4 linked regions of the Homo sapiens genome follow. The protein of the gene in region 4 interacts with the protein of the main gene of each other region in a pairwise test. Each region holds a gene or a part of one and is shown on either strand. Other genes may lie near its edges.

Region 1 (8,345 bases), on a different chromosome or scaffold from region 4:
CAGGGTTTCACCATCTTGGCCAGGTTGGTCTCAAACTCCTGACCTCGTGATCTACCCGCCTTGGCCTCCCAAGGGGTTGTGTTTTTTAACAGAAGGTTATCTAGTTGTCCCAACATGTTTCCCCAACAGGGGAATAATCCCTTTTTCCTAATACTTGAAGTATTATCTTTAGTGTTCATTAATTCTTATAGATATTTGAGTTCATACTATTTTTTCACCTTGGAATTTTCATTCTGCATGGGTTGCATAAACTCAGGCCCCACTCCCATAAGTGGCACGGGCCTGGGCTTTTAATTTTTCTGTCTTTTCTTTACCCCAGCCTACCCATGCACCCTGGAGTTAAGGCCATATGCTCAGTTCACAATGTTGCTGAGCGCTTTTGACAGTAGCTCAAATTTCAGAAGCAAGATTGCACTTTCAGTCACTTATAGAATCATACTATTCAAGAGATTATTTAGTTTGGTCTCAACTTCAGGCAGGTAAAATAATTTTCCTAATTTATATTTGAGGGATCTAAGGACTATGGAAATCGAGACTTGTTGATTGTGAGTGGATCCTCTAGAACCCAAGTATCTGTCTTCTTGAGAGGTATTATTTCAGTTTTACCATACTGCATTCTCTCTAAAAGTCTTGGGACTTACTGGACCTAAGCATAAAAAAATTTATTAGTTCAGTTAATCACTTTTACATATTGCCTCATTTGTTGATAGGCTGATTATAATCTTATTTGAAATAAATTACCCAATACTAAGTGTTATTAGTTACTCAATTTATAATCACAAAAGATTATTGTCAAAACAGGCCTGAAAACTGCACTGTTGATAAACTTTAATTAATTAAAGTTCATCTCTGAGAGATATGGTTTTTAAACTGTGAGAATAATTAAAATATCCCTTTAGAAACACTAAGGTAGCTATATAATCATCCTAATAATCACAAAATTATCTGTTACTACATATTTACTTCCTCCTGGAATTTTCTGTTTATTAAATTAATATTTAAAACATTTTACAATGAGCATATGTTGTTGCTGTTTCAAGAATATGTCACCTCATTCTAACTGATTGTATTAAAGTAAGCAGTTTTAGGATACGGTAACAAATAGGTTTATTGAACTTTAAAATATCTTGACCACAAGTTGGATTGACACTGAAAACTAAATGAAATCTGAATTCTGACTAGTATAGTACTTCATGTTGGGTTTGTTTTGTTTGTTTGTTTGTTTGTTTGTTTGTTTGTTTTGAGATGGAGTCTCGCTCTGTCGCCTAGGCTGGTGTGCAGTGGCGAGATCTCAGCTCACTGCAAGCTCTGCCTCCCAGGTTCACGCCATTCTCCTGCCTCAGCCTCCCAAGTAGCTGGGACTACAGGTGCCCACTACCATGCCCGACTAATTTTTTGTATTTTTTAGTAGATACTGGGTTTCACCACGTTGGCCAGGATGGTCACGATCTCCTGACCTCGTGATCCGCCTGCCTCTTGTTGGTATATTTAACAATAGCTTTGAAATAAAATTTATCTTTAAAATGATGTCCTTGAATATTTGTTATGTAAGTATATTTCAGAGTATTTGCTTTGACTGAATAATGCTGTTCATTTTTTGTAGCACGAATTTGCTTAAAATTGGGAGGCTGTTTTTGGATCAGCATTATATTTTAATATTTGATAAAGCAACAGAATTTAATTCTTCTAGTTACTACTGAACTGTTAGTGTCTAAATGAGCCTTAATAATAAAAAATAACCAGATCATGTAAACTAGCCTTTTTAAAAATAAATTAGGCTGGGCACAGTGGCTCATGCCTGTAATCCCAGCACTGTGGGAGGTTGAGGTAGGCGGATCACCTGAGGTCAGGAGTTCAAGACCAGCCTGTCCACCATATATGGTGAAACCCCCTCTCTACCAAAAATATAAAAATTAGCTGGGCGTGGTGCCACACCCAATAATCCCAGCTACTTGGGAGGCTGAGTGAGGCAGGAGAATCACTTAAACCTAGGAGGCAGAGGTTGCAGTGAGTTGAGATCACACCACAGAGTGTGACTCTGTCTCAAAAAAAAATACTAATACAAATAAATAAATTATACCATGCAACAGACTTAAACCATTTCAAATTGGCTTTATTTGGGGAGCTCCCTATTGTTTTAGTATTATGAATAGCCAAGTATACTTACCAAATATTAGAATTGGTAAATATTTAGGTTTTTTATGTAAGGGGATAACGGAATGGGAAGGTATTGCTGACTTTTCAGATAAGCTCCTGGTTGTATTATGAATGCAGGGAAATCTCCTTTTATTAGACATCAAATCCTTCCTCAGAATAACCCATCCAGTTCCAACTTTAGTTCCTAATGTTATATTCTTTAATGGCCTTACAGAAGGCTGGGCATGGTGGCTTAGGCCTGTAATTCTAACACTTTGGGAGGCAAAGGCAGGAGGATTGCTTGAGGCCAGGAGTTCAAGATCAGCTGGGCAACATAGGGAGACCTTGTCTCTACAAAAAATAAAAGAAATTATGCAGGCCTGGTGGGCCATGCTTCTAGTCCCAGCTATTTGGGAGGTTAGGGCAGGAGGATTACTTGAGCCCAGGAAGTAGAGGCCACAGTGAAATATGATTGAGCCGCTGTACTCCAGCCTGGGTGACAGAGTAAGACCCTGTCTCAAAAAACAACAAAAAAAATTTTTTTAATGGTCTTACAGGAAAGAGCATAGAAAATTATTACTAAAAAGACCTTTGCAGAAGTTAAATGCTTCCTGAGGGAAATTCTAAACATATGGAGAAGACAGCTTAATATAGTTTAGGGAGTGGGGGAATATGTTAATCACTGAATTATTCTTTTCTATTCAAGAGTCAACAGAACATCATTTGTCTGGAATTTGGCTTGGATTATTAACTGTTGACTCAAGTTCACTCTTACCAAGTCAATCATTCCCTACCCCCAGTACCCCAGAAAGAGCATATTTTATGAAATTTTTTATTATTATTATTCATTCAGTGTTGAAGCTTTCTTAGGGAAGTTGGTAGAGAAATTAATAGAGAATGCACTGGTATATATTAATATACTCAAAGATGGAGGGCTTTCTGATTGCTGTTTTTATAATGATTTTATCTTCTCTCCTTTGTATCATTTAAATGTGTTTTATGGCTTATACTCTGAAGTGCCTGAAGTAGATTAATGTTTGCAGGCCATGGAGATAAATACTATAATAGAATGCTTAGAAAAGCTATTAAGTAGAGCTTTTTTGTTAATTCTCTTCCATTTTGATTTAATAAGTATTCTAAAATTTTCATTCCCTTGAAATTTTGTAAGTAGTAAAATGCTCCAGTTTTCATGGTCGTTACTCCATCTTTGGGCTTGTGAGTCTTCTATGTGTTTTCTTGAGGTACACTGGAGGATTTAGGAAAGTGGAAATAGTACTCTCAGTTCTGTCAGTAATTTTAGGCAAATCACACTGAATGCCTCCGCTCCTGTTTTTTATCTGCCAAATGGGGAAGGCAGTCTGTCCCTTCCACTTTGGGAAACTCTGAGAGAGAAAAGTGAGGTTGCTGGAAAATTCTTTTAAAAATTGAACCTATAATTTTCCATTTGTAGATTGTTATGGCCTTTATTAGTTTTATTTTTCCTTTTGTATGTTTCACTTTTTGCTTTTTTAAGTTTATAAGCATTGGTCTAGTCAGCATTAAGGGTAAATATAATGTTTATAGATTTTTTTTATCATTGTTTCTTAGAAATTTTTATTTTTAAACACACTAGTTCTCTGTCTCTGTCTCTCTCCTTGTCCTCCTGAAAACACCCATTGCCACAAAGTGTGTAGAATTTTGCACGCACATGTGCATGTACACACACAGACATAACTGGTTAATACCTTTTTTTTTTTTTTTTTTTTTTCTTTGGAGAAGGAGTCTTGCTTTCTCGGCCAGGCCGTAGTGCAGTGGCATGATCTCAACTCACTGCAACCTCCGTCTCCTGGATTCAAGCAATTCTCCTGCCTCAGACTCCTGAGTAGCTGGGATTACAGGCGTGCGCCACCACAGCCGGCTAATTTTTGTAGTTTTAGTAGAGATGAGGTTTCACCATGTTGGCCAGGCTGGTCTCAAACTGCTGACCTCAACACTGCTGCCACAGAGTTGGGATTACAGGCATGAGCCACCGCACCTGGCCTGGTTAATACCCTTTTGAATGTCAGTTGAGATGATAGAAAAAGTTTGAAGGTTACGAATATTGGCCAGTGGTAAATTGTGTTCCATATTCTTATATAGAAGACACATTTGAAAGTATAAAATGGTAGCCTATGTTAATAAGACTGATTAAATAAATTACAGGTACACATCCATTCAGTGGGATAATATATAACCATTCAATGATAAATAATTGTTGATAGTCATGTGATACGATGTAGCAATATGGAAAATGCAATAAGAATAAGAAAAGCAGAATACAAATGTACTTTACTGGAACTGTTAGCTTTACTTTCATGTTACTGTATCAATACCTATGAATGCTACTCTTAAAATTATTGCTAATGCTACTTCTAGTTCCATGCAGTAAACTTTTCAGAGAATGAATTTCACATCTGGTTAACTTTATAGTACAGTGCTGTTAGCAACTCAAATTAATACTCATAAATGCTTAGATATCTATTTAAGTGAAACCTCGATTTCTACTCTCAGAAGGTACAGAGACTTTTTGACACATAACTTTCAGTTTCCTAAATACTTTTATATATGAATATAATCATTTCGCTCATTTAAAAATCAAGGAATTTCTAGTTTTTTCTGCTTGTTTACTTATCAGAACATACTTTGTTCTTTTATTTATAAGCCCTGTTTTTCACCACTCTGTTGTTGTTGTTCATAATAGTGTCTTTGCCTACCATAAGTGAATCTGTTTACAGAATCTTGAGTTTCTTTTTATTCGGAACTACAGCTAAGTCATTTGGAAGAAAATTATTACGTTCCTACTTTATGCCAGGCACAGTGCTAGGCATTGAGGATACAAATCCTCAATTGATGAACAAATTGCTGTTCTCAAGGACAAACCTTGGGAATGGTTTTTGTCAACACATCAGTCATGCCATTTCTCCTCAGAGAGAATGGTACCCAATTCCTTGGATAAAATGCTAATTATTGCTTAATGTGTCAGTCCAGAAGAATTATTCCTTATAGCTACTTCCTCTGTTTTCCAAAAGTCATGACAAGTAAGAGCTATTATTTTCCTTAATGACTTTTCCTAGTTTATATAGATCATTGTATATATATTATGGTAGTCAGATGATTTATTTTGAATATGGGTCTTTTTTTATTAAACCACTCAGCAAAGATTTATTAAATGCGTGTTGAGCACTGAACTAGTCACTGGGACCACAAAGATGATACAGTCTCTTTTCTCATAGAATTACAACCTTCATAAGGATAGCAGAAAGAAAAATGTTACAGATTCAAGTTCAGCTGAGTCTTTACATAATACATGATGTTCTGTTGATTATTTTTATTTTTTTGATGCCACTATTAACAGCAACCAGTAAACATTATTTCCCCTCAAGCAGACTGGCTTCTAAACCTAACCACTTAAGTTTCTTCTTCTCCCTCATTACCTCACAGTCTTCATTTTGAATATTAAGTTTGGGGATATCTGAAGTAATTGAAATTGAGGGTTTTAAGATCTAAGTGAAAAGCTTTACTTGGGTCAAAAGGCAGATTTCCAACAAATTTCTTTTCTTATTCCATCTAGTATCTGTACATGTTTTGAAATTAAGGGTATATACAAATGTGAATTATGAGGGGTTTTTTTCTTTGTTGTGTTTTTTTTTTTTTTTTTTTACTTTTTCCTTTGAGACATTCTAAAATATTGTTAGGTGATCTAAATAATTTATTTTCTTTTTTCCAGCGGGTCCATATGGAATATTTGCTGGTAGGGATGCCTCCAGAGGACTGGCCACATTTTGCCTAGATAAAGATGCACTTAGAGATGAATATGATGATCTCTCAGATTTGAATGCAGTACAAATGGAGAGTGTTCGAGAATGGGAAATGCAGTTTAAAGGTATTTTTATTTTGTTGGATTCTTTGGAAAATTAAATATTTGTTCAAAGAAAATATATACTATTTTACATGCTTTAAGAGCCTAAGGATGTCATCCGTTTTCATTGCCATCATTATTTGATAATATTTTTAAAGATAGCTAAAGCTGGGTGAAGTGGCACATGCCTGTGGTCCTAGCTGCTGATGGGAATCCCTTGAGCTCAGGAGTTCAAGGACTAACCTGGGCAACATAGTGAGACTTGTCCAAAAAAAGAAATTGCAAAAAATAGCTAAATAAAAATATGATTGTTACATGTGATAATTATTTTGAAAATCAATATTTAAAAAAATGACTTGTTACAAATTCTAAGCCTCAAAAATTGTGATACTTACAGTCAGCTTCTTCATTAAGGTTTAGTTTTTTAAAAATACAGGCTTATATTTAAAACTGAGTTGATTACTGATTTCAATACTATAATTTATTCCAAAATGATTTTACAGATCTTAACACTCGAAATGTAGATAAAAAATATCTTTCCCCTTTCTTATGCCCTCATAACATCAGTTTTTACCACTTGTGTGATGCTGTCCCAGCTGTTTATCTGACCCCTGGGTCCCTTGGAACAGCTGTTCTGGTTTAGCTGGGTACTGAGATGGGTCCTGGACTTACTCATTTTTAAAAAAGATCTCCAAGTGATTCTGATGCAGTATCCAACTAAGAATCACTGGTACAGAACACCCTCTTGCAAAGAATTCCCAAGCCTTATAAGTTCCCTAATCCTGTTTTCTTTTGTTCAGGCTTTACATGTGTATAAAGACCAGCCATGGTGAAGCAATTTTAGAATATTTAGATAATATTCTAATAATCATATTTTATATGATTCTAAAACAGACAAATGCCTTTTCTCTGTATAATGGAATAGTGAAACAAATTTGATCACCACTGATTTTCTTTTGATGTATCTTTCAGAAAAATATGATTATGTAGGCAGACTCCTAAAACCAGGAGAAGAACCATCAGAATATACAGATGAAGAAGATACCAAGGATCACAATAAACAGGATTGAACTTTGTAAACAACCAAAGTCAGGGGCCTTCAGAACTGCAATTCTTACTCCCTTTCACAGACTGTCCGGAGTCTTTGGGTTTGATTCACCTGCTGCGAAAAACATTCAACAAATTGTGTACAAGATAAATTAATCTCACTATGAAGATTTGAATAACTAGACATTATTTATGCTGCCAAACTCATTTGTTGCAGTTGTTTGTAATGTCTAGTGGGGCTTCATCATCCTGAAAAGAAGGAGACAGGGATTTTTTTAAAGAGCAAGAAAGTCACAATATTACTTCTTTCCTTCCTTTTTTCCTTCTTTCCTTTCTTCTTTCTCTTTCTTTCTTTTTAAAATATATTGAAGACAACCAGATATGTATTTGCTACTCAAGTGTACAGATCTCCTCAAGAAACATCAAGGGACTCCTGTGTCACATACTGTGTTTTTATTTTAACATGGGTGAGGGAGGCGACCTGATCAGGGGAGGTGGGGGTACACATCAATTTGAGTTGTTCAGGCTACTGAAACATTAAAATGTGAATTCCCAAACTTTTCTTTTTGGCTTTGTCAGGGAAAAGAAAAATATCTTTATAAAGAAATCTTTGGAAATTAGGAGAAGGAATTTCAGGTGGGTTTAAGTCAGAGCTAGTTCCCCAACAGAAAGATCATTTGAAACCAGTTTTTATCCCTTCTCTTTCCTTCCCTTTCCCTAAATCAAATCAATATTAATTGTGCCTTATTTCACTTAACATAGACTTGAATTATTTTTAGGGAAAGCCCCTATAATGAATTCAGAAATCACTACAAGCAGCATTAAGACTGAAGTTGGAATATTCTGTTGACCATAAAACCTTGATATCATTCTGTGTATATAGAATGTAAAAGGAATATTACAGTGTTAACTGCCATATATGTAATATACACAAACTCAATTAGCATTGTAATGGCCAAATGCATTCCCCCATGCTTTTCTGTTTTCAAAAAAATTGAAAAACAAATCAACTCTTATCCCCAACAGCTGCCTAATTTTAGGAGTCTGACCCTCCACATCTCACTGGTGTGGGTGCATGGGGCTGTGGAGTGGGTGTCAGTATGGATGTGTCTGAATGTGTGAGGCCTTGGAAGGGACTCTTTCTGCAGATACTGTAAATACAAGTACCATTTTAATAAAGCATGTACAATAAACCAAAATAAGCTTGAGTTGGACTTTATATACAGAACTGTAAGCCAGTGCATTATGATACAGTTGTAAGATTGTGCATTTGATTCAAGATAAG
Region 2 (7,525 bases), on a different chromosome or scaffold from region 4:
AGAATTTTATTCCTTTTTAAGGCGGAATAATATTCCATTTATGTAAATACCACAGTTTGTTTATCACTTCATTTGTTGATGGACGTTTGGGTTGCTTCCACCTTTTGGCCATTGTGAACAATGCTGTTATGAACAGTAATATACATATCCCTGTTTAAGTACATGATTTCAATGTTGAGGGGTATATACCTAGAAGTGGAATTGCTGGATTATGTGGTAATTTTATGTTTAATTTTTTGAGGAACCACCATAATGTTTTTCACAATGGCTGTACCATTTTACATGCCCACCAGCAATGCACGAGGGTTCCAATTTCTCCACATCCTTAGCATTTTTTACTCACCAAGGTCAACCATTTTATATGGAAATCTTTCTAAAATGTTTCACTCACTTTCCAGACTTCTTAGAAGAAAACTATTGAATAAAATTTAATGGCTTTTTTCATTTAATGACTTATGCATATTGATGTCCACCTCAGGAACTATTGCAATATATCTGTATTTGAGATCTTGCTATGTGCTAGGTACTGTTTTCCAGTTGTTTCCATAGAATAGATCAATCCTTTCAAAATTCTGTAAAGTGTTATCCCCATTTAACAGATAAGTAAATGAGGTACATAGAGGATTTAAAAAAAAAAAAAAAGGCTGGGTGCGTTGGCTACGCCTGTAATCCTAGCACTTTGGGAGGCCAAGGCAGGCTGATCACCTGAGGTTAGGGTTTTGAGACAAGCCTGGCCAACATGGCAAAAGCCTGTCTCTACCAAAAATATAAAAAATTAGTCAGGTGTGGTGGTGCATGTCTGTAAGCCCAGCTCCTCAGGAGGCTGAGGCAGGAGAATCGCTTGAACCTGGGAGGCGGAGGTTGCAATGAGCCCAGATCGTGCCACTGCAGTCCAGCCTGGGCAACAGAGCGAGACACCATCTCAAAAAACAAAAACAAAAACAAAAAACATGCCCAAGATTACATGGTTGTAAGTAAAGACAACAGGATTGAAAGCCATGCCTTTATGTAGTCTACTTGCCATTTAGACTGCTTGTCTCTATATTAAATGTCTCCAAACTATTACTTAATACTCTTAGAAAGTCTGTGTATGCTGTTTAACATTCTGTTTTTTCCTTCTGTTGTTACTCTTTGTGGTTGTAAAAGCACCTACCCCCTAGCCATTTCCTCCTCTTCAGAACACATGTTGATACTGATATCCTGTCATTAAGAAAAATAGACAAAGAAGTGAGTTAAAACTGTGAAAAATCAAAGTCGTAGGTTCTGAGAAAGAATTTGGGGAGGGATAATCTAAGGGTGAAATATATGAGCTTAGGTATTTAGCTTTTACGACATTTATTTTGGTGGTTCAATAAACTATTTTGCTTATTTCTGGCTTTTTTCTTATGTTTTGGCTATGGAATCTGCTATTATGAGTGGCTTCTGAATTTGAGTTCTTACTCTTACTCCTGCTTACATTGTGTAATATAATGTAATTTATTTTTTAAAAAGCTTGCCCCAAAGCAATAAATATCCTTTCAATGTTTGATATTTCCTTTTTTAAAATATCTGCTTAATATTTTCATAATGTACAAAAAGAGAAAATCAAAAATCTTTTGGCATTGAGTATCTGGTCCTACTTCAAGGCTATTCAAACTATAAATTACAGCAACCATCCATATCAGCATTCTGTAAAAATACCTTTACAGAATGCATTATAGGCCAAGGATATATTTTCCAGAAAGAGTAGGCAGTGTTTCTGTCCTTGTGTAACATGTATGTTATAAAATACTGGGCCTTTAACTCTCATAAAATCACACCTACCTATTTCCAATGAAGTAGAAGAGGACACTAGTTAAATAAATACAGCAGTTAGTCTTTCTCAGTATCAAAAATCTTTGCTTTAAAGTGAATTACCAGTATGCTCCCTGCATACCATATGTTCATCCATTTTTCTGGAAATTAAGTTTTTCAATGTCAACATTTCTTAAAGATTTCTTTTTTCACACTTGTGAGATTCTCCTAAGAAACAGGTGAATAAAAGGAGAAAAACTGAAATTGTTCACTGAAAATTCAAAAGGAAAAGATAAATAAAAGGGATTCTGTAAAACATAAAGATTTCTCTAGCAACACAGATCCCCTTAAGTCAATTAATGAATGAATAATAAATATAATTTTTGTATGACTAAGTTTATAATTAATTTCCATCTATATGTTCTAAGTAATTTTATTAAACAAAATCAGAGTGGAGGGAAAATAAGGGAAACAATCCCAAGATTGTCTTGAACAAAACCAGAGAGCTGAACTAGCTGATGGGGGAAATACCTATTACCTTGTCAACAATTTTGTGACTAATTAGTCCTTAAACCTGAGAGAAAAGATCCCACCCAAAGATTTGATTAAATATAAAAACTCTCCTGACTCCAAGGTTTGATCATTTTAACACTGACCTGACGAAAACAGCAATACTGTTCCTAGCAATAAATATACTCAAATTCTGATAATGATTCAACTAACACTTTTAGCATCCTTCCATATTGGATCTTACAAATGTACTATAAACTAACTCTTGGTTTTTGTCACATAAAGAAGGGGCTCTCCATTTGCTTACACCTAACTTCTACTGAACACACAGTTCTGTACAACTTGATCCCTGGAGGTGGGCCTCTGTTCTCTGACCTTTTATTTTTCTAAATTTCTATTACTTTTCTCTACCATTCATCTCAGGATGACTTTATATTGCCTTAAATTTGTTGTAATTTTTTCCATGTATACATTACGTTTTATTATTCTTGAGGACTACCCACATTAACTAAGATAGACTGATTGTATGATGAGATTTAAGTAAATTCTTACTTATCAATTATTAATAAATTTCTTCAAAGAAGAAATTGCCGAGAGTGAGGTATTTTTCAATTCTAATTAAATTATGGGAAACTAGAACAATAAGCCAGTGAATTGTGGTAGAAGCCCAAGCCTGAATTTTCAGCTGTTAAACATCCCCCTCAAAATAATAATAGCTATTTTAAAAAATCAAACTTATTGCAGCTGATATACCATAAATATCAAAAAATTGAAAACTCAACCAGAAGGCATTTCATTCTATTTTATGATAGTCATGAAGCAGTGCAAAAACATTTAAGGAACACTCTGAAGATGGAATAAATGATGTTTTAAGAAACAGAAATAAGAGGATTTACCAAGCAAACAGAATGAAATTAAGAGTAGAGTTGAAAATGGCAAGACAGCTACTATTTTTCAGTTTTATTTTATTTTTAATTGACAACTGTACATATTTATGAGGTACAAAGTGATATTTTGATACACATATACATGTGGAATGATCAAATCAGAGTAATTAGCGTACCCATTATCTCAAATTTTTATCAGTTCTTTGTGGTGAGAACATTTAATAGAAAGTAAATGTATTCTATTGGAAGCTCAAGTTACTGGTTTCCAGCTGTTACAGCTGAAAGAAAGAGGGAGGAAGGCAGGGAGTAATGGGGAAAAGGAGGGAGGGGAAAGAAAACAGAAAAGGGGGAGCGGGAACATGCAATATTCTTTCAGAGTTAAGAAACTTAATCTGACAGGTTTATAGAATTTCGTTGGAACCTAGAGCAAAATCACAATGGCTGAAGCGTCAATCAGGCCTATAAAAACATCTGTGTTTAGTTTAAATGACTAAGGGTGAAATACATCAGCTTATGGAAAATGGGGAGGGCTCCCAGTATTTGGCCAGCGTTCTAGGTGATGGATGTTGATGAGCAATTCCCTTCAACAACTGATTTACTGCCAACGGACAAAATGCTGGAAGCACATCCAAAAACTTATCTGCAATTAAAATTACAAGCAAGTGGTCACTCTGTTCACCTCCTTTACCAGAGAGGTGACCCTGCTCCCGGCAACTACCTCCACCCAAGGGCCACAGAAGAACTCCTCCTTCCTCTAACCCTCTTTCCTTGGCCTCAAACCTCACGGTAAAACCTGCCTTGCTCTGTCTCCCAATCGCTTTTGTAAAGGAAGCTGGGTGTAGAGCTCTTCTTTCTCCCTCCCTTCCTTTTTTCTTTCCTTCCTTCCTTTCTTCCTTCCTTCTTCCATGCCTTTCTGTCTTTCCAAATTCATTGCTTTGTAAGAAACATTCTCAGATCACCTCCACTCCACTAGAAATCCAACGCAGGCGAGTCGGAGTCAAGCACAGGCAGTGGGCGGGTGGCCTCAGCCGGCACCATCTGGCACCTGCGATTCATCGCCACTTTCCATTCGCCCAGAGGTCAGGGGGGCAGCAGGCAAAGGACACGCAGAGCTCGTGTGTCCCAGTTCCTCTGAAACTTTCAGCTGACCGCACCCTCCCCCGACAAACTCTTTAATCATCCATCAAGCTAGAAGAGTACAGTGACCTCTGCCTGGCCTTTGGAGTTTGCAAAAGAAGCAAGCAATAAAAAGCAAGACCAGGTTCGCCCCTTTGCTTCCTCCACCTCCCAAGAGCAGCGCGCAGCGCGGCGGTGCGGCCGGAAGGGGCCGCTGTTTGCTCAGCGCAGCCACCCCGCCGCTGCAGCCGCCGCGGCCCGCACCTCCCACGGCCGGGCTGGTCCAGCCCCGCCAAGTTCCAACAGCCCCCCCTCGAGCGAGCGCCGGGAACGAGCACCACCAGGGCTGGAGCGGACGGCTTTAGAAGAGCCTAGCTGCTGCGCGCGTCGGAGAGGCTCCTGGGAAACTCCCACGGCCCAGGGACTTTCGAAAGCAGAGCGAGGAGCCCTCGCACGCGCTAGTCTGCGAGTGAGCGCTCAGCCCGGCACCTGTTCCTCCAGCGCCGCCGCCTTCCCACCCCTCGGACCCGCGCCGCTCGCGGCGCCCGCCCGTTCCTGCGATGAATCCGGCCCTAGGCAACCAGACGGACGTGGCGGGCCTGTTCCTGGCCAACAGCAGCGAGGCGCTGGAGCGAGCCGTGCGCTGCTGCACCCAGGCGTCCGTGGTGACCGACGACGGCTTCGCGGAGGGAGGCCCGGACGAGCGTAGCCTGTACATAATGCGCGTGGTGCAGATCGCGGTCATGTGCGTGCTCTCACTCACCGTGGTCTTCGGCATCTTCTTCCTCGGCTGCAATCTGCTCATCAAGTCCGAGGGCATGATCAACTTCCTCGTGAAGGACCGGAGGCCGTCTAAGGAGGTGGAGGCGGTGGTCGTGGGGCCCTACTGACCCGCCCTCTGCCCCCGCGGCAACCGCTCCCACGCCTGCCCACTTTGCTAGCCCGGCTGTGCCCCTCACTATCAGAGACTGGGCGAAGCAAACCTGTCGGAGTCAATTATTTCTCTCGACTTCGGCCTTTCGGAAAGAAGCGACCGGTTTCTCCCTCGCCCTCTGAAAGTCCTCATGCCTGGCAGTCGGAGGAGAGCGCCCAGACTCTGAACTCAGCAGAAAGTGGCAAGAAGAGGGCGATTAGGGCGCAGAACTTTGGAAGCTGCTACTTACTTGGAATGCGGGGAGACCGACGGTGCGAAGGCCCTTCTCCACCCGCAGGTGGGCCAAGCTCTGGGGGCAGGTGGAGAGGGCGGGCAGGGGAGAGACCCAGCGGCACTGATCGCCTTGTGACCGGAAGAGTGACCTGTTAAAAGCCACGCAGCAGACTCATGGGGTCTCACAAATCCGTGTCCGGGTGCGCTCCCACTCTTCTCCTGCTCCCCCCCTGCCCTGGAGGGGAGGGGCGATAAATACCTTTGATTGTAACGTGCCGTTTTAAGAGGTTTTGTGTTTGTTTGCTTGAATACAAATGTTTGATAAGTCTTTTTCTGCCCCAGTGGCCTGTTTGCCTGCCTGAGGAGTTACAGTTTTGTCATTGTGGGAGAAGGGGTGGGGGGAGGGGGAGCCTGCGAATTTGAACGGGGTGAGTTGTTTCTTTTAGTGCATTTCCCACTGGGTCTTTTGGGAGGCGTCTAGCGTTCCTGCTGGCCCTGGGACAAAGACCCAGAATAGAACTCGTAGCTCGTGACTGCACGGTTTACGCCACAAAAGTGCTCTTGACATCCGTGACACCGTTTTGACTTTTTGTTTTTTTCTTATTTAACATTTCCTTAATAAATGCAACATTTAAGCGTTTTGTTCCTGGCCTCCTGGTGGTCATTCTGCGCTCCCCAGCAGGGGGGAACGGGGCGGCGGTGAGGAGTCTGGCTCCCGGCCAGGGCAATTAACCCTGGAGAGCTGCGATTCAACTTGTGGATCCCCTGGAGGGGCGAGGGTGGGGCCAGACGGAGAGGCCCTGGGATGACTGAGAAGGAGCCCAGCCTCAGGCACAGTAGCCGTCCTGGAGGCAGCATCCTTTGTTTCCTCTTATCGTGAATATTTTATATTTCATTTAGTCTCAGCTCTCAGGTAGGCGAGACGACAGAAGGGCCCCCGCGGGAAGATTACACTTCCGTGCCAGGCTCCGGCGGGAACACAGGATTACACCGCTAATGAAAGGAAGAGACGGCTTGGACAGCCTTTAGGGAGGGCGTCTCTACCCTAACCAACGTCAGCCAGGCGGCTTTGGGATGCTGCCCACGGGTGGGGCCGGGGGGCGGAGGGAAGGGGAATTATAAAATGCGAGGAAAAGTAGCTGCTAAGGTACACAGTGACGTTAGTGACGTTAATGCTCCCTAGGGTAAACCATTGTTACTAAAACATGAGATGCATTACTGTCGTTGTGATATTACTTTTTCTAGCAAAAAGACCACGTTAAAAGATTCAGCCTGTTCTTTGTAATTTAGTATGCCCCAGACCAGGCAAAGGGTTGAGAGGAGTTAGCCGAGGTCCTGAATGTGGGAGATGAGTATTACAACCCCAACTGGGAAGGATATTTGGAGTAGAACTACAGATGGCCGTTGACACATTTAAGGTTCAGAAATTCAACAGTGTTAGAAAGAAACGCCTAAAAACCGTGCCTGTGAAAATAACCCAAAGGATACAATAGCTTCGAGCATAAACTTGACAAAAGGTTTTGAGCAGTTTATTTTTATGCCTGAGACAGGATCCTAAATATTTTCAAGACTATAAAGAATCCACTAGGATGCTATATAGCAATTAAAATTTCAAAGACTTCACAATGGCAGCTATAAGAGTAACTAAAATCAAATAATAATAAAGTGTTCCATTTACTCAGAAAGAAGCACAACTGGTGTAAACAATGTTAACGACTCAAAGATTGGGATCAAAAGTTTTGAGTGCCTTTAATGTCATATCCACTATTAAGTGTCCATTTCGCTCTCAAGTAAACCTTGTTAGAAATCACAACCTAGGATGGTTTTTTGAATTCTAATGGATATCAGGATTGAGAAAAGAGGATTTTGAAGTTTTGCTTGTTGTTCCTGTCTTTTAAACAGGTAAGGGTTTGTTTGCTTGTTTGTTGTTTTGGTATCTGGGCAGGGGGCAGGGTCAAGAGATAGTCAATAGGTAGTCAGTAGGAGTCTTGGAAAGCAATCTACTTTTGCTAACCGACAGGACAAGAAATGGCAATGTTCTATTTTATAGACAGTTTCTGTGGCACCGAGTTAATCTGCTGCCTGCATGTTT
Region 3 (8,263 bases), on a different chromosome or scaffold from region 4:
ATGCTTTACATGGGCTGTCATTTAATATAGGGTGTGGAAGCCAACACAATACTAAAACAGTGTTTCCCAGCCCAAACTATACCTTTTCTCAAGGTGATAATCTACATGCTCTGTTGCATCTCTCAGGAATGAGTGGCAGAGAAGAGCAGAAGAGAGAGCCTCCAAGACTCAACTACAGTCCCCAAAGTCAATCAGCATAAGCATTGGCAAGGATGTGGAACAACACGAACTCTTGCTGGGAGACACAGGATTGGGAAAACCATTTTCGAAAACAATTTGGCATTATGTAAAATTGTTGGAGTCTTTTCTGACTACCAACCAGCAATTCTATTCTGATATTTACTCTTACTAAATAAAGTCTAGACTTGCACTGTCCAACATGGTGGTTATTAGCCAGCACAGGCTGGAGTGCAGTGGCGTGATCTTGGCTTACTGCAACCTCTGCCTCCTGGGTTCAAGTGATTCTCCTGTCTCAGCCTCCTGAGTAGCTGGGATTACAGGTACATGCCACCATGGCTGGCTAATTTTTGTATTTTAGTAGAGACGGGGTTTCACCATGTTGGTCAGGCTGGTCTCGAGCTCCTGACCTCGTGATCCGTCCACCTCGGTCTCCCAAAGTGCTGAGATTACAGGCGTGACCCACCGCACCTGGCCGAGAATCTCTTAAATAGAAAATAACAGTAAGATTATTCACTGTAGTACTGTAAATAATGAGAAAAAAAGAAACAAAGTCTCTATCAACAGTATAACGTACAAAGAAATTTTTATGTATTTATAAAGCTGACAACAATTCAGTGAAAATCAATGAACTCAGCTACAGGCATCAACAAGTGTGCATTGGAAAAATCCTGTTGAGTGCAAAAAAGTAAGTCTTGGAAGAAAACATATAACATGATTCAATTCATATATAAGTTAAATGGGCAAAACCCATCGTATAGCTTGTTAAATTTTTTTTTTATTATCACACCTGGTCCTGAGAAGGTAGCAGGAGTAATGTAATGCTTCTGAAGTGGGATCCAAGGTAGAGAGGGTTCCAAGAACCTAGAGTCATGTTCAAAGACCTCCTGACTTCATTGGCCTCTTTTCATTCAGGATAATTTTATTGGTTGCATTTATTCAGGGGCTGTGCACTACTCACAGGAAACAGCAGAATTCATCAGGATGCTGTCCAGTGGCTCTGACCATGTCTGGATCCCAGATCCCTTTGAGAATCCAATGAAGTTCAATGTTAGATTCTTTAAGTTTGTACAGTTATGGAACTAGTTTTAAAAACTGGCCCAGAACTTTGCAAATCAGAGGTTCTGGAGCATTTTGCAGTGGGGTGGAAAAGCATAATGTGTAATTAATATTTTGCTTTCCACATGTATGGGTTCTTTTAAAACATCTAAACATACCTTTTACATCTTTGGCTCACGAAACTGCCCATCCACTCTGAATGAACCGTAACACATTCCAAATGAGAAGGATACAAAATAATGAGATAAGTGCAAAAGAATAGAATGAATTGCATCCAGAAAGATCAAAATAGGGGTAGGAATGTAAAGACATTTGGACCTTTTAGGGTCAGATGAGAGTCATCAGAAAAAGCTTCTAGAGAAAAATATGGGGATAAAGAGACTCTGCAGCTAAGATGTGAGGTGTCCCAGGCCTGGAAGAGGGAGAGAGCTTATGTCCCCTTCCTCCAAGCATGAAGCCAACCTCCTTCCTTGTCCACCCAGCACAGGTATGGGTTTAAGAACCTTCACCAAGCATGCGTCTCAAGACACGCTGATATCTTGAAATGTCTGAAATATGGCTATAGTCATTTTCCTACTGTATCTTTTAATCATCCCCAAATATCAACATGGATCCAAATATTTGACCCTGTAGTTTTTCTAACACCAAGTACAGGGAAGCCAGTGAAGTCTCAGTTAATGTTTTTATGCTCAAGAATGTAAAGAACTAGAACTCCGCAATGTGGGATGCATGTCTCTCCCCGTGACCTTTGAAACCAGTGTGCTCAGGGGTTGTAAGTACCACCACTTACACTGCTGTCCTGTGGCAGTTACACGCACATGCCTGCATTCAGAGTTTTGGAGTGTGCGTTGACATCTGTGTGTGTGTGAAGATAAATGGGTGCCTGTTTGGATGCAGGACATGATACAGGGCATTGCTGGTATGCTGTCAGAAACCTCATGTGAAAACGAACCACCCGAAGGACGGCTTCTGGCCCTTGGAGTCACTCACTCACTTGTGGGACTGTTCAGGGTATAATCTGTCTCCAGTCTACAATTGTCGTTTTACTATGGGAATAGAAAGTTTGAATCAAAATTGAACATTGAATCAAAATCAAAACTATTAAACAAATAGACAATTAACAACTACTAAACAAAATATGGTTCTTTCTATGGTAATTTAAAAAATGGCTGTAACATTGTACATTTTAGGAGGAAAAAGAATCAAAAGATGACTAGAAACCTAAGTGAGCCTGGAGAAAAAGTTAAGTGGAGACATTGTAGCTAAACGATGAGCATGAATATAGGAAAATTTAACCTAGAAACTGAGAAAGGATTCCAGTGAACCAAATATCTTGACACAGCCCTTGGAACACAGCACCAGGACGCGTGAGTAATGGTGTGCACGTCAGAAAGATACCAGAACTACCACCTCAGTGGGAAAAACATCCCCTGGGCTTGTCCGCAGGGCCTCTCTGGCTGCACCCCGGCTGCTACTGTCACTAGTTAGAATGGAAAATGTGATGAACCTGATTTGTCTTTCCTAATCTGGACACACAATCGATTCTACCATTTTTATTTTCAGGACCAAGGCATTTGGCGTTTTTTGTGTGCCTAGTAATGTTGTTTGCCGAGTGTATTAGTCAGGGTTCTCTAGAGGGACAGAACTAATAGGGGATGGAGATATATTTCTGAGTTTATTAAGTATTAACTCACACGATCACAAGGTCCCACAATAGGCTGTCTGCAAGCTAAGGATCGAGGAGAGCCAGTCCAAGTTCCCCGACTGAAGAACTTGGAGTCCCATATTCAAGGACAGGAAGCATCCAGCATGGGAGAAAGATAGGCTGAAAGTCTAGGCCAGTCTCGTCTTTTCACGTTTTTCTGCCTGCTTTATATTCTAACCGTGCTGGCGGCTGATTAGATGGTGCCTAGCTAGATTAAGGGTGGGTCTACCTTTCCCAGCCCACTGATTCAAATGTTAATCTCCTTTGGCAACACCCTCACAGACACACCCGGGATCAATACTTTGCATCCTGCAATCCAATCAAGTTGACAGTAAGTATTAACCATCACACCAAGCTTTTGCTGGAGCCTCTTGATGACAATTTTGATTGAGTCAGAAGGATGAATTTCGCAGAGATGTTGGTTATATTAACAACTCATTGCACAGATGGAGGACCTGAGGTCCACATCCAGCTACAAATTTCTGCCTGCCTCCTGCCTCCAGGCTGATCTGGGGACGTGTTGGCCTCTCAGCATTATTGCCCATGCCCTAGTCTGGTAGAAGAGTGGTTTAAAAGTGTGACTGTTTTATTCTTCATAAGAATCAGGCTGCCTTGGTTGAAATTGTGGCCCCATCACTTTGCAACTTTGTGGCCTCTGGCAAGCTATGGCACTTCACTGACCCATATATGTGATGGAGATAATGATACGGTTATTACAGGAGCACACTTGATGATAGGTGTAAAGCACTCAGTACAATGCCTGTTTGTAGGAAGCATCTAATAAATTCTAGTTGCCAGTATAACTAAGCACTTGCCCTATTTTTCAAATGCTATTTTAGCCAGATCAAATAGGTAGGAAAAAGCCTGTCAATCATGAAGTTTATACTTTCCTGTTTCTAAAAAGGTACACTTCTAAAAATTTATATAATTCATTTATAGCTATTAACTTAAACTTGGAAAGTTTGGATATTTGGTCTGTCTTCACAAGTGTTTATCTGAGCCCTACCTCTCAAATTAACATGTATCACCATTGATGTGCATTATGTTGATTCTTATACCTATTATATGCATGTGTGAAACTAAGCCCCATAAAAACAGAATTTAGGCATTCCTGCTGAAAGGAAGTGAATTGAAGGGAAGAGAAGCAGAGCCTTTGCAAAGAGAAAATTGTCCTATCTCTCAACCAGTGTCAGAATGTGGAAATGTTTACAAAATGCTCATTAAAAGAAATAGGGATTGCAAGATAGAAACAAATTCTGGTGCACAAGTTTACACTAGGGAGATAAGAAAGGCTAGGCCCCTATAGGGGATTTTGTTATCCAATTACTGCAACCTGACTTTTAGGGGGAGAGGAAGAGTGGTAGGGGGAGGGAGAGAGAGAGGAAGAGTTTCCAAACTTGTCTCCAGTGACAGGAGACATTTACGTTCCACAAGATAAAACTGCCACTTAGAGCCCAGGGAAGCTAAACCTTCCTGGCTTGGCCTAGGAGCTCGAGCGGAGTCATGGGCTCTCTGGTCCTGACACTGTGCGCTCTTTTCTGCCTGGCAGCTTACTTGGTTTCTGGCAGCCCCATCATGAACCTAGAGCAGTCTCCTCTGGAAGAAGATATGTCCCTCTTTGGTGATGTTTTCTCAGAGCAAGACGGTGTCGACTTTAACACACTGCTCCAGAGCATGAAGGATGAGTTTCTTAAGACACTAAACCTCTCTGACATCCCCACGCAGGATTCAGCCAAGGTGGACCCACCAGAGTACATGTTGGAACTCTACAACAAATTTGCAACAGATCGGACCTCCATGCCCTCTGCCAACATCATTAGGAGTTTCAAGAATGAAGGTAAGTTTTTGCTGATGAAATTTTGCTAGGATTTTTTTCAAGACACAATAAGTAAATTTACAATGCATGGGAATGATATAGGTAAGGGTAAATACATCTATATAAGGATGTTAAATACATATGGATACACAAAAACAAGGCACATTTTGTTCTATACCAATTATATAGTCATTTCAGGAACCTCGAAAAATACTTACAAACATCTTTTAATCCAAAGCCACAAAACATCTATCAATTTGACATCATAATTGGGTCCTTTTAAAAAATGTTAATTTGAACACCAAGTAATACAAAGAATTAATGTTGGTCTACTGCCGTACCTTTGTCATTTTCCAAATAGGCCTTGATTGCCATATGGGCTTTTAATTAACTAAAAAATTTCTCAACTTCTACTTAGAATAAAAAGGGTAAAAACAGTCAAAAAACATCAAATTGTGATTTGTGTTTTGTTCAAACTTTTGATAAGTTTTTATTTTGTGACCTTATTTAAGAAATGTTCAAACAGGATGGAAATATATTTTAAAGATTCTTCCTAAGGCTGTGTTGTTTGATGTGTCATGTACATCCTTAAAGCACTGTTTACAGTTTCCAGGAAGTGTAGATGGCCCATTAATCATCCAGCTCATCATTTCCGTCTTTATAAAGAGCAACGTACAAGCTTTGAATTATTGGTGGGAAAAGTGTGTTTTCTTCTCTTAGGTCTTTAAATTTGGTAACTAAATCTAATGAGCTAGCAAGTTAATGTTTTTGTTTGTTTGTTTGTTTGTTTGTTTTTTGGTTAATATGGTCCTAGTAGGAAAAAAAACCCCTGATATCTAGATATCTATAGTAGAAGCTGAAGGTCCAAAGGAACTAATTTAATTTTTGCCAGTTATGCTTTTATAGTCACTAACCAGGTATAAAAGAAGCTTCCCGTTAATATTGGCCAGATGTTCTTGAAAGAAGAAAGGTAATAGTGAAGAAATAGCTCAGGATTTGGGATTTTGAGAGCTAGTTGGCTTAGTGGTTGTGAATAATTAGCTGATGCCTCAGAGCCTCAATTTCCTCATCTATAAAGTGGGAGTAATAATACCTACATAACATAGTTGAGTGACTCAAAGGAGGTTACAGATAAGAAAGCACTCCATTTACTATGAAGTGCTGATCAAACTTTAGTGACTACTAATGAGTTACTTAATATTCTAGGTACTGGAATAAATGTTGAGTAGGTATTCCTTAGTCCCTAAGATATTATCTCCCTTTAAAATTGAGTTGGCTGCCAAAATTTATAATTCATAATATCTTTCTCATGGAAATGGCAAGTTGAGATTACAGATTGCTTTTGGAGGTGAGTCTGAATTGAAAATGAACAACTTCCTCCTGTAAGAACCCTCCCTAATACTTCTCAGCACTGAGCCCTAAGTGTCTGGCTCAGGGTGTGGGTGAGAAAATGTTGTTTGCATCCCCTGGAAAACTAGAAACGTTTTCCGTTCTCACTTCTCTCATAGAGTATCTGGATGATCCAGGTCAGGATGTGGAGTTTACTGTGCTTATTATTACTGGAGATTATTGAGGGCAGGAACACATCTCTTAGTAAACAACCCAGCCGCCAGCACCTCTGCCAGTCTGCAGGAAATGTGCAGCCTGAGGACAGAAATCGCACAGGACATGCCCTGTTGGCTACTATTGCCTCTCTTCTGACTCTTTGGATCTGCTTAGTGCAGCTCCCTAGGAGAGAAAGACCAAAAAAACTCCAAACCTACCCCATCTTGGGAAAAAAAAGTGCCACCTCCAAGGTGAAAAAAGCGTGCTCCTTTATCACCTTGTCATTTGGGGAAATCAGTTATCTGCATCAAGGCTTGATTTATTCTGGTGCAAAACGAGTAGAGAATCAATACCTGCATTATGGGGTCATTGTGAGAACCAGAGAAGATCATGCTTGCAAAGCACCTGGCATGAGAAATTTGTCAACAAACATTCGTTCTCTTGCCCTGAAATGTAACTCTTCCATCTATTGCTTACTGCATTTGCACATGCACAGAACTTCACAGTGAACTTACTTTTTCAAAACAGCTTTATTGAGGTATATTTGACTTATAAAAATATGACATATAAAAATATTGATGTATAAAAGTATAATCGCACATATTTAAAGTGTATAATTTGAAAGGTGTTGACATATGTAACATTCATTGAAACCATCACCACAATCAAGATCATGAATATATCCATTAAAACCAAAAGCTTCCTTGTATACTTTGTAATGCCTTCCTCCCACTACAGTGAGCTCTTATTTTATACTTTTCTCCTGGGTAGAGCAACCAGCCTACTCTTCCATGTTCCCTGTCCATGGGGAGTCAAGTCTCTTCCCTTCTTAGAGTGGAAGAATAACTCCCAAGCCCAACCCAAGAGCTTGATGATGGATTAAGGTCATATGTCACGCCCATAAATCAATTTAGTCTGGTGCCTAGAATCATCAACTAATCAATATTTTTAAAGCACTACCTCTGTTTAAGCCATCATAGTAGGATAGAGACATAGAAGGGAGTTTTGAGCCATTCAAACCAGGAGGATGGCAATCTAGTTGGGAAAATCCATTCATAAAAAGATGGCTGAAATATAAGGACGTAAATGACAAGGATCAAAGGAGATATAAAGTGATCAAATGATTTCAGAGGGGAGAGGAGGGAACTTTCAGATGAGAAGTAAGGGAGGCTTTTATAGGAGATGTCAGAGCTGGATAGGTGGAGGTGAGGTGAAAGGGCTTTCCAAGGGTCAGAAGAACATGTGAAAAGGTGAAAATTGCAGGGAAAAAAAGAGTGTTTTGACAGGTGGTAAAGATATCAATGTAGTTAAAACAGAAGGGTTTACAAATCCATTCAATTGTTCACAAATATTATTGAGTAATCACAATGTTCCATGCACTGTGGAGGACGTATGTAAGCTATGGCTGATCAGGAGGTTAAGACCCAGATATAGCTGGTCTTGAGAGCCATGCCAGGGAGTTTAAATTTATTCTGTAGGTCAGCATTTCCCACTAGCAGTGTGTAAGATTAATTTAGGTGGTACCCAAAGAAAGCTATTAATCATGTGAAATTATTGTATATTTTTCTTAGTATGGATTTTTAGCAAACACACATAAATATCACCTCAAATCTCTCCTTTAATGAATTATGTTGCTTAGGAACAGTCTAAAATAGATAATAAGTATAAAATAATTAGATCAAATTAAAGAAAAATATTAAAAGATTATAATCTGAAACAGGGACTCACCGAGATCATGAACTAAGTATAAACTTGGGGAAATGCTGCCAATGATGACAGAGAACCCCCAGTTGGTGGTCCTTAGCATCTTCGGTGCCATGGAGTCCTTTGATAATCTGATGGCAAATGCCTTCAGGGCTTCCTTGTAGACTCATTACCTGAGGCAAGTGTGCAGGAGCTTTGGGCTCACTGTGAAATATTCAGATAGGAAGTCAACATGATCGTATTTGGAAGTATGCTTC
Region 4 (8,345 bases):
TGTGGACCCCCTGGATTTTGGTTCGACCCCAGCCTCAAAATGGCCTTTCTCTTGAGAGTCACTCGATTTCTCAGTATGTCGCTGTAAGCAATTGGAAACTGGAATAGTTTGGTTTGAGGTCTTAATCTTGAGGTTTATTCGCTTTTTAAAAAAATGTGGCCAATAAACATTTTCTACAGAGGGCTTACTGTGCGACTGGCAGCAACTAACAAGATTTGTTTCACCTTCTATGAAGCTTCCGTTCTCAGGGGGAAATAGACTATATAAATGTAGGCATATACATTTCAGGTATTCTTAGTGCAATGAAGAAATAAAACAGGATCATGTGATGGGGGAGGATGCTTGAAATAGAGTGACTCACCGGGAGGGGCGGTGTGAGGGTATAACATTTGTCCTCAGACCCGAATGATGAAAAGGGATCAGCTATTTCCATAATTGAGGGAAGAAGGCCAGCGGAAGGAACAGGAAGAAGGAACAGCAAGTACTTATTGCACTCTTCTTTGACTGTAATATAATTGAACAGATAGATGAATAGATTTTAAAGGTGTTTTGGAGCTTTAAACCTATATGTATGTTGTTTATGTATATTTTTTATGATGCTTCATGAATTAAGGCCATTTAATGAAAGGAGCACCATGTTTCTGATATCTGACTATTGCTACTCTTTTCTTTACTCTGGGTGATGCTTGTGGACAAAAACCGATTTTACTCATTGTTCCTCTAATGTCCAGCACATAGTACCTGCTTAATAAATACTTGTTGGATCGAGACCTTGAGACCTTGATCAGGCCATCTTGTTCATCTCTTTGTGATATTATTGGCCATCCCTTCCGTTCTATATCTCATCTGTTCCCCTTCTCCTAAGTTTGAAAATGAGAGTCTTTTTCTTCTCTGCTTCTCCTTCTCGTACTGCCCTTCCCACTTTGAGCAGTGACCAGGCCCTTGAAAATACCCCTCACACTTGTCCTCTTGTCTCCATTTCCACTGCCCAAGTTCAGGTCCCTGTCACCTTACCTAGACTTGGAGACATATGAAACAGATATAGAGGTGCCTTGAACAACCTAGGGGCAGTGGGAGTGGGCGGTGGAGAAAAATGCAAGCACAACATATGGTTAAGAGTGAAACAGCCAGTTACTGAGGTGGAACAGCTTTCCTGTTGGTCTCTCCTCCATATCAAGTTATGCTCCCCTAATTAAATCTCCATTCTTTCATGAGGTTTATATTTCTAAAATTCAGTTCACATTTTGTTAAAGGACCTTGCTTTTAAAAACCTCTGAGGGTTTCCATTGCACACAAATACAGTCTAAATTCCTTAGCCATACACTTAGGACCCTTCACAATCTGCCTTCTCATCTCTTTCCAATTTTTTCTCTTGATATTTTCTTTCTCACAGTTCACCCTATTCCCTCCCTATCACTTTTCTGCTTCAATATCTGTGTGGATTGGATTCCAGTCCAGAATGCCTACTGAAATCCTGTGTACTTGTGATGGCCTATCCCTGATGCCACTTTTCCACCTCTTGGGAGAAGTGTTCACTGATCACCTCACTGGCATTTTCATAAGTATTTGTTTATCCTTCACATTTTGGACTGTTGTTACTCCAGGTGATGGAAGGTGGTGAATAGGGGCTTAGGCTCTGAGTCAAATATAAATATCAGGCCTCAGCTTACTCACCCAGGAATCTTGGGCAAGGTGTTTGGCATCTCTAAGCCTCAGTTTTTTCTTTTGCTAAATGGGAATGATGATGCTGGTGGTAGTGTTGGTGGTACCCACTTTACTGAGTGATGGTAAAGATTTAATGAAGATAATGAATGTGAAGTATTTGGTATAGTGTTAGCATTCCATATGTATTGAATTAAACATATCTACCAGAGGAGGGAGAGAAAGTTGATCAGTAAAGTTCCCTTTACCTCTGAAATTCTGTGACTATGTAATCTTTTAAAAATACTTTTCTGAAAATATATCTTGATGGAAACTACCTGGATCTTTTTAGTCTCTGGGAGAATATACATCTATGAAAGGTGGTGAGGAGGTAGGAGAAGTATGTGCACAGAAGTACTTTGAAGAATGTGTGACAGACTTCGAAAAAGACATCTTGTATGCAAAGGCACACAGAGTAATATAATGGACTGTGGAGACTCAGAAGCCAGAGGTTGGAAGGGAGGATGCCAGATAAAAAGCTACAGATTGGGTACAATGTGTACTACTCAGATGACAAGTGCACTAAAGTCTCAGATTTCATCACTTTCAATTCATTTATATAACCACCAAAAATCACTGATACCCCAAAATCTATTGAAATAAAAAAATTTTAAGTAAAATTAAAAGATTAACTTCAATAACCTAAAAAAAGACACTGACCCTAGATTTAAAATAAGATTTTAAATTTAAAAATATTGTTGTACTTATTTCTGAAAATTGATCACATATTTGTTTTCTAGTGATAACCTTACTAATAACAGAGGAGTTCCCCTAACCATGTTACCTTCCCAATCACTGAATTCCTCTACTATTAGTAAGTAACTCTGTTTCAAGTGAGGTTACAATGTGTCTTTGGCAATAACTAGCTGGGTACCCTTGAGCAACTCATTTCACATTTTTATGCCTCATTTTCTCATCTGTCCAATGCTAATAATAGTATCAGTGCTGCGTACCTCAGAGTTGTGAAGATACAATGAGAGCAGAGCTGAGAAAGTCCTTGAACAAGTTTAAAAAAACTATTCAAGATGATAGTCATCTGGCATTAAGCATGCTGCTAATCTTCAGGGTCAGGTGATGGTTTTAGATTAGTGAGTCTCAGAGCAGACTTCACATTAGACTCATCTAGGGTGTTTTAAAAGCTGTCAGTGCCAAGACTTCAACTCCAGAGATTCAGATTTAGTTGGCCTGGGATGGAGCCCAAATATGGGAGCTTAGAAAATATCAGGGGTGATTTTGATATGCATTGGTTTAGATTTAAAGCAAGGAAAACAAAACAAACATCAGAAATTAAATGAGGACCTCCATATGTTGCTTGACAAAGTCTTAGTCTTAGTAGTGTGAAATTATGAGCTTGACTGACTTTTCCCCCTGATTTTACTAAACCAACCATTTGTTGACATCATGGAGCCACAGCCTCAGGTTACAGTTTATAACCTGAATTTTCCCAGGCATAGACGCCTGTCCAGTGATACAGCCAGAGCCACATGAAGATTTAATGTGTAGATCTCAGTTTCCATCTCTTAGGAATGGCGAAGGTTGGAAAAGAAAGCGACAATGGAAAGGAAAAAGAAAGGGATAGGCTATGGACCAAGGTATAGGAGAAAGAGGCTCTGAGCAGGAGACAGACAGGTCAGAGCACAGAGAAAACACTGTGTTTAATTTATTGAACCGGTTTTGTTTAGGTTGCAAACTGGTGGCTAGAGAGCCAAATTAAGCTTGTGGGCATATTTTATGTGACTTACGCTTTCTTTTAAAATTATTTGAAATTAGTTGCCAACTCTTAAATATCAGAATTTCACTTAGAATTTTGATTTCTGGCATTTATTGAAAAACATAAAAATAAAAAGACCAGGCTCATTCCTGCCACTAGTTGGAGGGAAATAGATGGGACATGTGTTCTCTAGTTCCTTATGCCCAGTCTGCTTTGCCCATTTATCTTACCTACCTGAGCACTAGCTTCTTTTGTTTTAACTTTTATTCTCAATCTGGGGATCTTAACATTGGCTGCACATAAGAATGCTCTCCTCTGGAGAGCGTTTAAAATAACCATGCTTGGATCCTGTCCTATACCAATTAAGTCAGAGACTGTTGTGTGTGTAGTGTCCCCTTATCACTTTTATTTTTTTAAAGCTCCCCAGTTTGTTCCAATGTCCTGTTAGAACTGAGGCCTATTGGCCTACAAAGGCAACTATTCAAGAGATTTGTCTACAAGTCCACCTTCTTATCTTTGGAAGTGATTCATTAAGAAATAGTGTATAGAATCATTAATTCAGAGAACTGGGAGAGGTCTTTGAGAGAGCAGCCATTAATCCAATCTTCTTATTTTAAGGTGAGGAGACAGAGACCCAGAGAGGAGAAAGGAATTGTTCTGAGACTGTAACCATCATCTGGTATTGAATTATATAGTGTCTTTTATTACATTTTCTCTTTTCAAATAAAAGTCTATTTTTAAGATTTCTTTTTATAAATGATCCTCTTTATATGCAGCACTTTGTGATGCTTTAAAGTTCTTATTATTTCTGTTTTTCCTTGAGTATTTTGTTAGGAGTCATAACTTAGCTAGGGCTTAAAAACAAACACACAAAACTGTATCCATCTTTTTTAGTACAATAGCAATCCTTGATCAGAAATATCTTTAGAACAAAAAACATATATGCAAATAAAGAGATTTTTCTCAAGGGCTGAAATATTCCAGGCTGTTTTCAACTGCATGAGTTTTTAGTAATTATTTAAATCCATTAATTTTCAATTGACAAGAAATATTTTTAATTTTGTTGGTATTCACACTACTCATATACACTCACTGTTCTAATTAATTAAGATTCAATTCTTTTGGTGTTTTTTTTTTAAATGTAATATACAGTCTGTCCTCCTATATCCAGTTATAGGTTGACTTCATTAACTTTAGAGTTTATTTTTTCTGTCTTGAATAAATTGGAATTGTTTCAAAATTTCTGATATAGATAGGTTAGTTACCAACATCATAAGCTGGTCATGTTGATAACAGACATTTAAAAGATCATATGGGAACTTGAAGACAAGAGGAATTATGGAACGATTAAGAGCAGGTTTTGGGATCCTGTTAAGATAGGATGCACTGGGCAATTTGTCCAAGGAAGTTAGCGGTTCATCTCCATGCCCCACAAAGAGGGGGTCCATACTCATCCCCTGTGAGCTTCTGTAACACAGGGCTTCTTGCCCTTCACACTACTGGCATTTGGGGCCAGACAGCTCTTTGTTGTGTGTGGCTGTCCTGTGCATTGTATGATGTTTACCAGCATCCCTGGTCTTTCTCAACTAGATGCCTGCAGCACCCCCTCACTTACTGCAACCCAAAATGTCTCCAGGCATTGCCAAATACCTCCTGGGGGCAGGGAGAGGGACACAATTGTCCCCAGTTGAGAACCACTTCTTTAATACAACTCCTTCTCTGGACTTTTAGAAATCATGCCAAGAATTCTTAAACATTCCAAGCATAGTGGCTGGGACAGTAATGATAAATACCTTCCGTTTATATAGTTCTTTACAATACTAAATGCATTTTTACATAAATCCCACACGCCCAGATCAAATGTAAAGGAGATCAGGTGGTAAACTTAATGAAAACTATGAGGTAGGGCTATCCACATTGCTTCATGTTCCCATTTTTGTTTTGTTTTCCATGGGAAGATGGTGTTTGTGATGCTCACTGAATATATTGTCTGCAGGCAGGTGATCATAGCTTTCTTTTTAAATTTAGTCCTCATTTTTATTGTTAACATGTGTTTACTGTCACCATATACTAGACCTTTGAGATGTATGGTCCTTGTCCCCAAGGAATTGAAATTGTAAATAAAAAGATTACTGAAATATGAGCCCCCTTGCTATAAGCCAGTGAGTAATCTACACGAAACTGCTGTAAGAATTCATCACAGGTAAACAGTCAAGCAGGTTCTCAACTGGAACAATTATGTCCCTCTCCCTGCCCCCAGGAGGTATTTGGCAATGCCTGCGTTGGTCATTGGAGAAAGGCATCACAGAAGAGTTGGCTTGAATTTTTTAAAAAAGCAAGCAAGCTGGGCTTTGAAAGAAAGGTCATACTTAAGTTAGCATAGGCTTCATGGGAAGGTGGAGAGGGTGTGTCCAGGATCAGGGGGATGGTGTGAACAAAGCAGAAAACTGCATAAGAGTAGACCCATTGCAGGAATGGAAAATTAGAAGGAATATAGTGGGAGCATAAATTAAAGAGAAAGCTGTCTGAGGTTCTAGAGATTAGACCTCATCCTGTAGAGGGAACAGTTATGATTGGCAAGGCAGAAAGAGGAATGTGCAAGACTGTCTTTTCAGGAAGAATCTGCCTCTATAGGTGGGAGAGGGCAAGAAGCAGGAGGTAGCGTGGCGGAGAGTGACTGTGGCAAAGTTCAGGCTGTGAAACTGTAAGGAATAAGGGAAAGGAAAAGGATTTTGTGAAGGAATGTTGGCAGGACTTGGCAACTGATTAGATATGAGGTTGTATGAAAGCCATACTCAAGTTTCAAGTCTGAGTGACAAGGAGAAGGTGCATTATATCTTTAACAGAAATAGAATGCTGGCATGTGAGGTCAGGTGATGCGTTCTGCTTCAGGCATGTGGAATCTGAGGTAATGATAAACATCCTAATGGAGCAGTCCAGAAGGCAGCAGGAGTCTGAAAAGAATTTATGGAAATGTTTCTGAGAAGGAAAGAACCTGAGAGATAACCTCTCTTTCATGCCCTCTCATTTTACAGATGAAGAAACATGTGACATGTTAAGTGGCATGATCATGATCAAGTTGTATTTATGAGGGAGATCCTATTTCATAACGCAAAGGAATTCTAGTTTTATAAAGTGAAAAAGACTGGGAAGAAAGATCTGAAAGATGCCTTTGTAGAATGAAACTTGACACTACAGCCCTGAAGCCCTAAAAAGGAAAGAATTTGGAATATGTGGAGCAAGAAGAGTCGAGGCCCAAAGAGCTACTTCTACACAGAAAGTTGGGAGGAGGAGGGATCTGGCAGAGGAGACCAAGAAGGTCTTGGGAGGATGCAGTGTGGAGTTATTTGGGAGAAGTCAGAAAACAGGAACAATGGTCACAATAATTTACAAAACCCGGGCCAGACGCTGTTCTAAGTGCTGCACATGGACCAAGTCATGGAATCTTTATGACTGTATCAGATGGGTATTGCTTTAAGTCCATTTTACAGATGAGGAAACTAAGGCAAAGAGAAGTTAACCTTCTTTCCTGGGGCTACACAGCTTCTAAGTGGTGGAGCCAGAATTTCCTAATCAGGCATGATTTCAGGGGAGTGGTGGCAGGAGCAAGTAGTTTAGAGACTGCTAGCAGTAAAGAGAGGGGTGTGATGATAGTTCAAGGTTCTAGACAGAGTTATGTTCCAGATAAAGAGCTCTGAGGATGATGGATGTCAAGAAGGGAAGGCAGAGAGAGGAAGTAGAGAAACAAGGTCCTAGCAGAAGAGCCAGGACCTTAAGCACAGGTTAAACCATTAGTCTTGGGCAAGAAGAGAGTAAAACCACTTATTTTTCTGAGACCACTTACTAGCTTCCCAGGTTTTTCACTACCAAAGGCCATTTTTATTATTCCCCACCTTCCAAAAGCCCCAGATTTTCAAAGATTTTGATGATCGGCTTTAATTTTTTATTTTAATTAAAGTATAAATTATATGCAATGCAGTGTCCAGATATTAAGTATACTATTTAATGAGTTTTGAGTGTTGACTTTAATATATTAATTCATTTCCCATTTTTATTACTCAAAGGTATATAAAATTGCCAATCAAATTTAGGATTATCACATCAAGTTAATGAAGCCTTGCTAACAGTATGGATACCTCACCATTTAGTTAACCTGTTTAGCCTGTTTGAGGCCTTTTGAAATATAGATCCATGTTAGTTCTTAGATCCTTATCACTATCATCTATGAACCCTGAGGATCCAAGAACCCCAAGTGGGTAAACAGACACAGTCAGTTATGGGACTAGCTGGCCCGGAATTATAGAACCATTGTTGACCTTAGGCTTAACACTTTCTCCGCTTTAAAAATTATATGTATTTAAGGTGTGCAACGTGATGTTTTGGTATACATATGCGTGGTAAAATGGTTACTAGAGTCAAGAAAATTAATATATCCATCATCTCACGTGGTCACTTCTTTTTTGTGGCAAGAGCACCTAGAATCCACTCTTTTAGCAAAAATCCCATATATATAATACAATATTACAGGTTGAGCATCCCTAATCCAAAAATCCAAAACCCTGGCTGGGCACAGTGGCTCACGCCTGTAATCCCAGCACTTTGGGAGGTTGAGTTAGGTGGATCATCTAAGGTTAGGAGTTCAAGACCAGCCTGGCCAACATAGTGAAACCCCATCTCCACTGAAAATATAAAAATTAGCTGGGCATGGTGGCATGTGCCTGTAATTCCAGGTACTCGGGAGGCCGAAGCAGGAGATTCTCTTGAATCTGGGAGGCGGAGGTTGCAGTGAGCAGAGATCTCATCACTACACTCCAGCCTGGGTGACAGAGTGAGATTTCATCTCAATAAATAAATAAATAAACACATTTTAAAAAGTCCAAAACCCACAAAAGTCCAAAACTTAAAACTCTGAGCACTGACACGATGCCCAAGT

Evidence for each region.
Region 1: the proteins of SLC38A1 (region 4) and PGRMC2 interact in binary tests that used the Homo sapiens proteins (3 or more experiments, as listed by UniProt).
Region 2: the proteins of SLC38A1 (region 4) and RPRM interact in binary tests that used the Homo sapiens proteins (3 or more experiments, as listed by UniProt).
Region 3: the proteins of SLC38A1 (region 4) and BMP10 interact in binary tests that used the Homo sapiens proteins (3 or more experiments, as listed by UniProt).

What each region holds. Positions count from the first base shown.
Region 1 is NC_000004.12:128,270,054-128,278,398, reverse strand, and holds part of PGRMC2 (membrane-associated progesterone receptor component 2), read left to right. Parts: intron 1-5,881; coding exon 5,882-6,037; intron 6,038-6,985; coding exon 6,986-7,083; 3' UTR 7,084-8,345. UniProt on the Homo sapiens protein: Required for the maintenance of uterine histoarchitecture and normal female reproductive lifespan. May serve as a universal non-classical progesterone receptor in the uterus.
Region 2 is NC_000002.12:153,475,887-153,483,411, reverse strand, and holds RPRM (protein reprimo), read left to right. Parts: upstream 1-4,649; 5' UTR 4,650-4,846; coding exon 4,847-5,176; 3' UTR 5,177-6,074; downstream 6,075-7,525. UniProt on the Homo sapiens protein: May be involved in the regulation of p53-dependent G2 arrest of the cell cycle. Seems to induce cell cycle arrest by inhibiting CDK1 activity and nuclear translocation of the CDC2 cyclin B1 complex.
Region 3 is NC_000002.12:68,867,540-68,875,802, reverse strand, and holds the start of BMP10 (bone morphogenetic protein 10 preproprotein), read left to right. Parts: upstream 1-4,405; 5' UTR 4,406-4,444; coding exon 4,445-4,778; intron 4,779-8,263. UniProt on the Homo sapiens protein: Required for maintaining the proliferative activity of embryonic cardiomyocytes by preventing premature activation of the negative cell cycle regulator CDKN1C/p57KIP and maintaining the required expression levels of cardiogenic factors such as MEF2C and NKX2-5.
Region 4 is NC_000012.12:46,258,582-46,266,926, reverse strand, and holds part of SLC38A1 (sodium-coupled neutral amino acid symporter 1), read left to right. Parts: intron 1-410; exon of another isoform or gene 411-481; intron 482-8,345. UniProt on the Homo sapiens protein: Symporter that cotransports short-chain neutral amino acids and sodium ions from the extraccellular to the intracellular side of the cell membrane. The transport is elctrogenic, pH dependent and driven by the Na(+) electrochemical gradient.